Linked DNA regions of Homo sapiens: region 2 is linked to region 1. Evidence: fine-mapped expression QTL. Tissue or cell type: testis. Region 1 holds a variant in brackets; the other region holds the start of a gene. All regions are shown on one strand. Distances are between the middles of the regions.

Region 1 (5,000 bases):
AAAAAGAATTTAAAAAGAAATATAAAACCAAGAATTTTGGGATTGAAGAGGAAAAAACTTTTGAAAAAAAAGTTAAAACTGGAGTGGCCATCCGACCCGGCTGTTCCATTCCTGGGTATTTCCTCAAGAGAAATGAAGGCAGATGTCCACGCAACGGCTTCTATGTGGGTGTTCACAGCATTTTTTTCTCAGGACTGCCTAAGCTGGAGACATCCCAAATGTTCCTCAGCAGGTGAATGGACAAACACTGCGAGGTGTGGCCGTGTAAAGGATGCTGCGGCTCAGCCATGAAAGGGACCTGGCTGCTGTGACCCCCTGGATGAATCTCTCAGCTCAGCCATGAAAGGGACCTGGCTACTGATGACCCTCTGGATGAATCTCTAGGGGGTTACACTGAGCAAAAGACGCCGAACACAAAGGAGCCGGTGCGGTGGATCCGTCCACACCATGCTCTGGGTGTTCTAAGTGTGCGTCTCTGCGTGTGTGGGCAGGTGAGGTATCTGGGGCAGACAGGGAAGGGCATGAGAGAGCTTTCTGGGGTGATTGAAAGGTGCTACATTGGCGTGGTGGTTACATGACGGAAAGCGACTGTTAGGACTCCCCAAACTACACTTAAAATGAGGATATTTTATTCCATGCCAGTGATACATTATTTTATTTTATTTTATTTTTGAGACAGAGTCTTGCTCTGTCACCCAGGCTGGAGTGCAGTTGCACAATCTCGGCTCACTGTAACCTCCGCCTTCCAGGTTCTAGCGATTCTCCTGCCTCAGTCTCCCAAGTAGCTGGGATTACAGGGTCGTGCCACCACGCCTGGCTAATTTTTGTATTTTTAGTAGAGATGGGGTTTCACCATGTTGGCCAGGCTGGTCTTGAACTCCTGACCTCGTGATCCACCCGCCTCAGCCTCCCAAAGTGCTGGGATTACAGGCGTGAGCCACCGTGCCCAGCCAATTTTGTATTTTTAGTAGAGACGGGGTTTCCCCATGTTGGCCAGACTGTTCTTGAACTCCCAATCTGAAGTGATCTGCCTGCCTTGGCCTCCCAAAGTGCTGGGAAATTACAGGCGTGAACCACCGTGCCCGGCCACTATACATAGTTTTAAAAATGAAAAAAATAAGGCTGGGCATGGTGGCTCACAGCAGTAATCCCAGCACTTTGGGAGGCCGAGGTGGGAGGATCACTTGAGCTCGGGAATTGAAGACAATCCTGGTCAACAAAGCAAGACCCCTGTCTCTACAGACAAATACGAAAATTAGCCCTGTGTGATGGCATGCACCTGTGGTCCCAGCTACTCAGAAGGCTAAGATGGGAGGATCGCCTGAGCCCAGGAGGCCAAGGCTGCAGTGAACTGTGATCGTGCCACTGAGCTCCAGCCTGCGTGACAGAGGGAGATCCCGTCCCCAAAATAAATAAATAAATATACAAAATGAAAATAGTAATACCAGCAACTAAGACACATTGAACACATCTTTGGTGCCAGACACTGTTCTAAACATTTTGTGGGTAATAACTCTTTTAATCCTCCAAACTGCCCTGTGAGATGGGCACTATTACCAGTCCTTATTCGATACCTGCAATTCCAAAATTCTTAAGGCCCTAACAATCAGATTTTTCCAAACTTTGACACCAAATCCCACTTGGTGGCAAAACCCGATCAGAACTCATGTGAAGCTATTTTATTTATTATTTATTTATTTATTTATTTATTTATTTATTTTGAGATGGAGTCTCGCTCTGTCGCCCAGCCTGGAGTGCAGAGGCGTGATCTCGGCTCACTGCAACCTCTGCCTGCCGGGTTCAAGTGATTCTCCTGCCTCAGCCTCACAAGTAGCTGGGATTACAGGCACGCATCAACACGCTTGGCTAATTTTTTGTATTTTTAGTAGAGACAGGGTTTTGCCATGTTGGCCAGGCTGGTCTCGAACTCCTGGCCTCAGGTGATCCACCCGCCTTGGCCTTCCAAAGTGCTGGGATTACCGGCGTGAGCCACCTCACCCAGCCACATGAAAGTAAAGCTTTTATTGATCCCACTCGTGACTATCCAAACATTTCATTCTAGAAATTCCCATGTTTCAAGACCACTAAGATATTATAAAACCTATACTATCTATTACTATGTTTCTAATATCGGAATGTCAAAACGCATCAGACCTCAAGAGTTTCACACGAAGGATGATGAATTAGGCCCAGGGAGGTGCAGTGACTTGCCCAAGGTCACACAGAAGTGGACAGCAGAGTTGGGACTGGATCCAGGCCCTCTGGTTCCAGAGTCCTGGCTCTTGACCTCTGACCCTGGCTGCCGCCTCTCAGGGCTGGAGCTGGGGTCCACGGGAGGGGCAGTGCTGGGTCAGAGCACGGGAGGCAGGAGCTCACAGGGTCCTCACTACTGATGACCACGCCGGGTGCACTGAGGCCCAGAAGGCCACACAGCCATTGGATC[A/G]TATCTGCAAAGCCCAGATAGTGGTGTGTGCCAGGGAGAAGGGGACGGACACTGGGGGAATGCGGTGTTACAGTATTAACGGAGGAAACTGAGAACCTCAGATGCATCCTGTGTCATCACAAAGAAGCTGAAGAATTAGGTATCAGAGTATATGCACCAAAAGAAAAAAGAGAAAAAGAGGCCGGGCGTGGTGGCTCACACCTGTAATCCCAGCACTTAGGTAGGCCGAGGCGGGCAGATCAGTTGAGGTTGGGAGTTTGAGACCAGCCTGGCCAACATGATAAAACTCCGTCTCTGCTAAAAATACAAAAATTAGCCGGGGGTGGTGGGGGGTGCCTGTAATCCCAGTTACTCGGGAGACTGAGGCAAGAGGGAGGCGGAGGTTGCAGTGAGCCGAGATCGCGCCACTGCACTCTGGCCTGGGCAACACAGTGAGACTCCATCTTAAAAACAAAAAAGAGGCCGGGCATGGTGGCTCATGCCTGTAATCCTAGCACTCTGAGAGGCCAAGGCAGGTGGATCACCTGGGTCAGGATTTCGAGACCAGCTTGGCCAACATGGCGAAACCCCATCTCTACTAAAAATACAAAAAATTAGTCAGGCATGGTGGCAGGTGCCTGTAATCCCAGCTACTTGGGAGGCTGAGGCAGGAGAATCTCTTGAACCCGGGAGGCGGAGGTTGCAGTGAGCCAAGATCGCCCAGTTGCACTCCAGCCTGGGTGACAGAGTGAGACTCTGTCTAAAAAAAAAAAAAAACTGGAAGGACATACTCCAAGCTTTTCTTAGTAGTGAACTTTATCTGTTGGGAATTATGGACAATTTTTATTCTTGTGTGATATTTTTTCCTCAATGAGGAAAAATTACTTTTACAGTAAGCAGGAATAAAAACAAAACCAAACCCAGATATACCTGAGAGGCAAACAGCGTAAGAAATGGTAGAATCTGTGGCATAGGCAGAATCATAAAATAATAATAATGTATGTCGGTGCTGTCCAATAGAAATAGAATGTGAACACGTGTGTAATGTTTGTTTGGTTGTTTTGTTTTAAGACAGAGTCTTGCTGTGTCACCCAGGCTGGAGTGCAGTGGCGCAGTCTCGGCTCACTGCAGCCTTGACCGTCTGGGCTCAAGTGATCTGCTCGCCTCAGCCTCCTGAGTAGCTGGGACTACAGGCACGTGCCAGCACACCTGGCTAATTTTATTTTATTTTAATTTTTTGTAGAGATGGGGTCTCCCTATGTTGCCCAGGCTGGTCTCAAACTCCTGGCCTCAAGCGATCCTCCCGTCTCAGCCTCCCAAAGTGCTGGGATTATAGGTGTGAGCCACCACACCCAGCCCACATGTGTAATTTTAAATTTCCTAGAAGCCACATTGAAATAATAATAAAGAAAAAACCAAACAGGTGAAATCAACTTTACTAATATATTTATTTAGCTCAACAGGTCCAAAATACTCTCATTTGAACCTGTCATCAGATGCAAACTTGCGATTGAGCCATTTTACACTCTTTATGGTGGAGCTTCGAAATCCAAGGAAACCCAACATGTGTTTTACACCCAGGGCGTCCAGGGCACCTCTCAGTAGCAACGCATGCAGTCCCCGAGCCCAGCCAGCAGCCCCGATGCTGGCGGCTGCCCTGTGAGATGCTGCGGGTTTACTCGGTGCCCAGGGACGCTCTGTGGACACAGTCACCTTTTGTCCATCCAGCAGCCCTAAGAACAAGGACTGTGATCGCCCCGTTTTAGAAAGGAGGAAACAGGAGCCTAAAGAAGTGGCTTGCTCCATGGCAGAGCTGGGCAGGGCTGGCCGGAGCCTGCGCCCCTCCCCGTCTCGCTCGGCCACCTCACACCCACCCATCGCCGTTCCCCGTGGACAGACACGGAAACAGAGGTCACGGGTGTAGTGTGAAGAGCAGAGCCCTGTTCAAATCCCGCCTCCCCCGTCCTGGTTGTAGGGCCTGTCACTTGAGCTCTCTGTACCTCTGGGCTCACTCTTACCACGAGGAGGATGATGAAAAGCACTTCAGAGGGTGAGGGAGAGGAGATGAGGTCCCAGTGTTCAGGGGTGCTCAGCACGTCGTCATTCTCATTGTTATCGTTATCGTTGGCGTTGAGAAACTTGTACCATGCCCTTGGGATTACAGCCCTGAGCCGTCCACTGAAAGGCGGCTCTTAGGGCCAAGAACCGTACTTTTTTTTTTTTTTTTGAGAGGGAGTTTTGCTCTTGTTGCCTAGGCTGGAGTGCAATGGCGTAATCTTGGCTCACTGCAACCTCCACCTCCCGGGTTCAAGTGATTCTCCTGCCTCAGCCTCCCAAGTAGCTAGGATTACAGGCGTCCTCCACCACACCCGGCTAATTTTTGTATTTTTTTTTTTTTTTTTTAGTAGAGACGAGGGTTTTATCATGTTGGCCAGGCTGGTCTTGAACTCCTGACCTCAGGTGATCTGCCCAACTCGGCCTCCCAAAGTGCCGGGATTACACACGTGAGCCACCCTCCCCGGCAAGAACTGTCTGACTGCATCCTTTCCCGCAGAAAATCAGGGCCGCCCCCATCCTG
Region 2 (5,802 bases), 45 kb after region 1:
GGGTCCCTCTGACAAGTCAGAAGCGGCCTCTAATCCCCCAGAACTCTGGTGGCCAGTGTCCCCCGGCTCCCTGCTGGCCCCAGCAGGCACCCCGCGGGTCTGTCCCACCCTCCCTGAGTCTGTGGCTCCCTGCGTCTCTGCCTCACCCGCGTGTCTGCTCTCTGGGTGGGAGTGGCGTGTGTCCCCGGCTCCCCGACTCTTTCTTTCGGAAATTAAGTGAGTAACTCCGTGACTCCGTGCTGATGCCCTAATTGCCTGTATGTGTGTTTCGGAGGCTGGGTCCCTTCTCTCCCTCTGTGCCTCCCTCCCTGGCTCCCACTCTTCCCTTCCTTGGGTCTCTCTCCCCGCCTTTCGGCGGCTTCACTCTCTGTCCCTCATTTCTCTGTGTGCGTTTGGACAATCCGGTGGCCAGGAGGAGAGGAGCCCCAGGGAGGAGGAGGAGGAGGAAGGTGGGAAGGCGAAGTGGAGGCTGCGGAAAGGCAGGTTAGAAGGCGAAGGCTGCGGAAGATGCTACAGGAAGAGGGAGGTGCGGTCCTGGCCGCGGTCCGGGGGTGGGGGGCGGGAGTTTTCAGGCTCCTGGACCAGGAGGGAAGCCGGCTCCGGCTACTCCCAGCTGCCTGGAGCCCGAGTTCCTGTCTGGCGGCTGCGCGGCCGGGACTTGGGATGTGAGGCGCATAGCAATGGGGCGCTGCGGAGGCGCCACTGCAGCTCCCAGCTGGAGAGGGGGGCGGGGAGGGGGCCGAGGGGCAGCCCCGAGGCTCCCTTCCCCCTCCCCCTTCCCAGCTGGGCTCTCCCCAGGGGAATTCCCCACCCCGACAGAAAGTCACCAGAGGCTGCGGGGAGGGGGCAGGGAGGAGGGGAGGGCGCCTAGGAGGAGAGCAGAGGTGAGGAGGTCTGGGGAAGGAGATGGGGGTGCAGAGAGGAGGCGAAGGGGTGGAGGGGTGGGCAAGAGGCCATCCTGGGCTCTGGAGACTCGAGTCCTGGAGAGAGACTGGCTGGGCCCCTGGCAGGACAGGACCCCAGGGAGGCAGGGGCATAGAGATGGGGGGAACCCTGAGAGCCCGGGATTGATGGTGAGTTGGAAGGAGAGGCTCCCAAAAGGAGAGAGCTAGGATTGGGGGGGTCTGAGACTGGGGAGTACTATGGGGTGAGGAGACAACGATGGAGGGGGTCTCTGGGTGATGAAAGGTCATAGAAGGATGTTTCAGAGAGTGATGGGCTAAGGAGAAGGCGACTGGGGGTGTTGGGGAGAAAGGGGAGAGGCTGGGGTGCAAGGCCCAAAGAGGGGCGGGGAGGGAGTGGGAGGAGGGAGCTAGAGGAGAGGGCGGCTGAAGTGAGGGTCTCCTGGACAGAAGGTCTGGAGAGGGATATCTGGGGGATTGTCAGAGATGGGGGTTAGAGAAGGCTGAGGAGCAGATGCCGTGTCTTAGAAGGTCCTAGAAGAGCAGGTGTGAGGGTCGGAAGCCTGGGGAGGAGGCAGCAAATGGGGGGCGGGGGTCTCCAGGAGGAGAGGTTTCCAGGAGGGGAGGGCGGAGGGAGGTGGGAGAGGCAGTGGTCCTGGAGAGACACGTGCCCAAGGATAGAAGGCCCCAAAGCCTAGTGGGGTCAGGGAACGGGGGTCTTGGAGAGACGGAGGGGCAGGGGTCCGAGCCGCCCACCAGGAGAGGCGGGGTGACCCCAGAGGGAGAAGGGCTGAAGACTGGGGAGGGGGTTGTCTCACTCCCCAATCACCCCCTCCGTCTTTCCCATTTTCACTTCCCAAACTCCCCGGTTCTCCCCGGTTGCCACGGCAACCGCTCTTGCCAGGCGCGGTCACCAAGGAAACCCCGTGCCCGCCTCTCCCCCCTCCCCATCACTGGCGTGCCCCCCCCACCCCAAGCAGCAGCGGTGTGGAGGGTGGGAGGGGCCATGGGGAGAGGAAGAACCTGGACTCCCGCCCCAGAAAGGGGGGCCCGGACCTACGCCCGGAGAGCCCCCCACCCTAAGCCTACTTCCTCAGCCCCACAGCTGGATACGCAGCGACCGCCGGACGCACCCCCCACAACCTGTCCCCAGGCAGCGGCGACAACCACCCCCCCCACAGCACAGAACTCGCCCTGCCCGGAGAACCCCCACCCAGTCGCCTCCCCCACCGGCTTCTGCCTCCCATTAGGCCCCGCCCCCTGTCCTCTGCCATCCCCCCCCATCCCGGAGGAGGCCTAAGACCACTGTCCCCCAATTAGCGAATGCCCCCCACCCACCCCCCGCGGTTCCGCCTCCGGCCCCCGCCCCCGACCCGTGCCCCTTGGCGGCTACTCACAGCGAGGAGAGGGGTTCCTTCCGGGGGGCAGCATGCCCGGCCCGTGGGGGGAGGACCCCCCCAATGAGGCTCAGGAATTTGGGGTGCAAGGCCCGCTGCGGGGAGGCGCGGGGGGCGGGGCTGCGGCCGGGCCTGGAGCCTCTCGCGCTCTCCCCCCTCCCCGGCTCCTGGGTGGGGAGGGGGCTTCCGCAGCGGCGGCGGTGGGGCTGGGGGGGCCGCTCTGCCTCCTCGCCTCGCGCCCGCCTGCCGTCCGGCCCCGCGCCCTCGCCCGCCGCCCGCCTTCCTTCTTGCCTTCCTTTCTTTCCTTCTTTCTTTCCTGGCTTCCTTCCTTCCAGCCTTCCTTCCTTCCTTCCTCCCTCCTCGGGCCCGCCGGCGCCGCTCTCCCCCCACCCCACCCCCCCCCAGGCCCCGGCCCCGGCCCCGGCCCCCGCCTCGGACGGTGCGGCAGCGACCGAGAGCAGCCGAGAGCGGCGGAGACGGGAGCGGAATACTGATGATGGTGGGAGCGGGCGGGCGGAGGGAGGGAGCAGGGAGGGAGGCCCGGGAGGAGAGGAAGGGGGGAGAGAGGGAGGGGAGGGAGGGCAGCGTGGAGAGGGAGGAAGGAAAGAGGGGGGAAGAACCGGAGAGGATGGGAGAGGGAGGGAAGAAAGGAGAGGGAGACGGGAGGGAAGGGGAAGGGGGGGAGGAAAGAAGAGGGAAGGGGAGGAAAGAAGGAAGGAAGTGGGAAGGGGGTGGAAGAAAGAAGAGGGGGAGAAAAAGGGGAGGAGCAGGGGAGAGAGGAGGGAAAGGGGAGAGGGTGTGGGAGGGGAGGGGAGAGGAGGGGGTAACTCCTGCAATAAGGTCCTGGATGAAGGGGAGGGGAGGGCGGGGGGCAGGGGGAGTGGGTAGAGGAAGAGGAAAGGAGGGAGAGGAGGAGTGGAGGGGGAGATGGGTAGAGAGATGGGCAGGAGAGGCCCAGGGGCAGGGAAGTGAGGGGAAAGAGGAGGTAGGGAAGGCCTAACTTTGAGGGCTGCAGGGGACAGAGGGGCCTGGAGGGCGGCGGGGGCTGTGGGGAGAAGAATGGGGGGTGCGGTGTGCGTTGTCAGGAAGAGCAGGGGAAGCTGGCAGGACCCGGAAGAGGCAGGAGGATCTAAGTGGGACAGAGATGAGAGGATGGAAGAGGGAGGGAAGGACCCGTCGGGGGGAGGGGGGAGGAGAAAGATCTCGGGGGAGAGGAGAGAAGCTGGGGAGCTGGAGCTTTGAGGGCCCAAGACTGGGTGGCAAGAGCCCGGGGAGTAGACAGAGTGGGGGAGGGGACAGAGGGCCTTTCTTGAACTCCGCTGTATGCCCGCTTCGTCCGCCCCTCCACCTCATGAAGAGAAGAACCTTCAAACCCATTTTCCAGAAGAGACCACTGAGCTCTTGGAGGAGCCAGGATGGGGTTTGAATGCAGTCTTGGGCTGGGGGTACCCTGAGGGAGATGGAGAATGGGTCAGTTCCTAGCTTTCGTCCCTGGTCCAGACTTGGCAGGTGGAGGCACCTGGGAGGGGCAGAGGGCACAGCCTGCAGCCTCCCTACTCACTCTCCTCTCACCTCCCCCAGGTGTTGGCAGCGGGTGCTGGGGACGCATTTAGAGCTGTGAAGCTGAGCTGCATCTTGGGTGCAGGGAGGGGGAGGGCAGATGCAGAGGCCTCTGGGAGGTCACCGTGACCCTCCCCTCTACCTCCCCGGTCCACTACCCCAAAAGCTTGGGCCCCAAGGAAGGGGGACATCGGGAATCAGGGGCGGAGAAACCCAGAAGGAGGGGTGGCCCCTGTCCAGGACACTGAAGATCCTTCCAGATGTTAAAATTAGCACAGAAGTTTCACCCCTGCCTTGTTATCCCCCAAAACGCTGACTAATAACTGAGGACTCAGGAGAGAGAGAAGAAAGATGAAGGTTCCTTCTTTCAGTGCCAGGGGACCCGGGACAGACTCTCCCTCTTCCCCTTCTCCTCGGAGAGCCCCAGGGAGGGAAAGTGTGGCTGTACCCCTGCAGGCAGAGCCTGGGGAGAGTCAGGGTTGGAAGCTGGAAGGAAAGTGGGCCAGACACATCTATAATGAGCCAGGGTTCCCGAGAGAAGCCAGGTCACAGATGGGTTCGGAAGAGGCGGTTTTGGGTGGGCGCTGGTGGGTGCTGAGCCCTGAGAGCTGCCGAGAGGGGAAACTGAGAAGGGGCTGGGCGAGGGCCAGGGAGTGGCAGGTGGCTGTGGTGCTTCGGGTTTCACCCGCCCCTGGCGCCGCTCAAGTCTAGTTCGTGAGACTGGACCAGTGAATGTGTGTGTGCACCAGGGTCCAGCACAGAGTAGGCCAGGACCGATGGTGATACCAGCAAAACAGAATCACATGGTGGCAGCCCGCGGTTCCTCCTGGTCTCCCACAGGCCAGATGCTGTGCCCAGCACCTCACAAGCGTGGCATCAATCCTGCAACCATGCGGTACCAACTCCTAGGGATGGTGGTACCTGGTGGGCACAGGTGAGAGCAGGCCCCTGATGAGCCCTGAGTTAACCCTTTCATTACAAGAGGGTCTCGGCCGGGCATGGTGGCTCGCACCTGTAATCCCAGCACTTTGTGAGGCCGAGGCGGGAGGATCACTTGAGGTCGGGAGTTCGAGACCAGCCTGGCCAACATGGTGAAACCCCATCTCTACTAAAAATACAAAAATTAGCCAGGCATGGTGGTGCGCGCCTGTAATCCCAGCTACTCGGGAGGCTGAGGCACGAGAATCACTTGAACTCGGGAGGCCTCCAGAGGTTGCAGTGAGCCGAGATCACGTTATTGCACTCCAGCCTGGGTGACAGAGCGAAACTCAGTCTCAAAAAACAAACCAAGAGGGTCTCAGGTGAGAGGCCAAGCCGTGTCAGGTGGGGCCGTTAGAGAAGCAGGGAAGTATTCCAATATTTGAACAACCAGCGAACCCTCTTGGTCCATGCAGCCTAAGTCTCAGCCCTGCCTGGAGGGTATGACTGCCCCTGTTTTACTGAAGGAGAAATGATTTGCCGTCAACCTCCAGAGCTCATCAAGGGTCTTCAGCACCGGGCACTGTTCAGGGCTTTGAGAGCCCGGCCGGAGAACAGTAAGGAGACAGCCCCTGTCCCCGTGGAACTGACCCCTCAAGGTCCTATTTCCAAGAGCAGTGTGAGCAATGAAGAAAATAAGAGGACAATTAGGGAGGAGAGAAGTTGGTGGGCGGTCAGGAGGACAGACTTGAGGTGATCAGGGGAGGCCTCCTGGAGGAGGTGTCTTTTGTGGCGAGGCCAAAATAAGGAGATAGCTCATTGCGTGCACAGGGGCAAGCACCTGGGGCAGAGGCCCCCAGATGGCAGCAAGCCGGGCCCGTTTGAGAGATGGGAGCCAGATAGGTGTGGCGTGGAGGAAGAAGAGAAGCAGAGTGGAAAAAGATGAGGATGCGGCCCCAGGTTTGGCTCAAACACAAAACCAAATCTTAACGCTTCCCACTGTCCCCTAAACCTTGCCCTAAGGC

Evidence for each region. PIP is the estimated chance that this variant, and not a neighbour inherited with it, causes the effect.
Region 2: LRRC4B starts here. The variant in region 1 is fine-mapped to the expression of LRRC4B in testis (GTEx, PIP above 0.99).

The regions. Positions count from the first base shown.
Region 1 is chr19:50,520,774-50,525,773 of GRCh38, forward strand. The region is part of intron 2 of LRRC4B (leucine rich repeat containing 4B); the gene reads right to left. The region is part of intron 1 of LOC124904747 (a long non-coding RNA gene); the gene reads left to right. Among named protein-coding and RNA genes, the nearest start is that of ASPDH, 9.4 kb to the left of the region's middle. The variant A/G (reference allele first, on the strand shown) is at 2,444.
Region 2 is chr19:50,565,645-50,571,446 of GRCh38, forward strand. LRRC4B (leucine rich repeat containing 4B) reads right to left here and starts at 2,791. Exons shown (of 3, transcript NM_001080457.2): 1 at 2,300-2,791.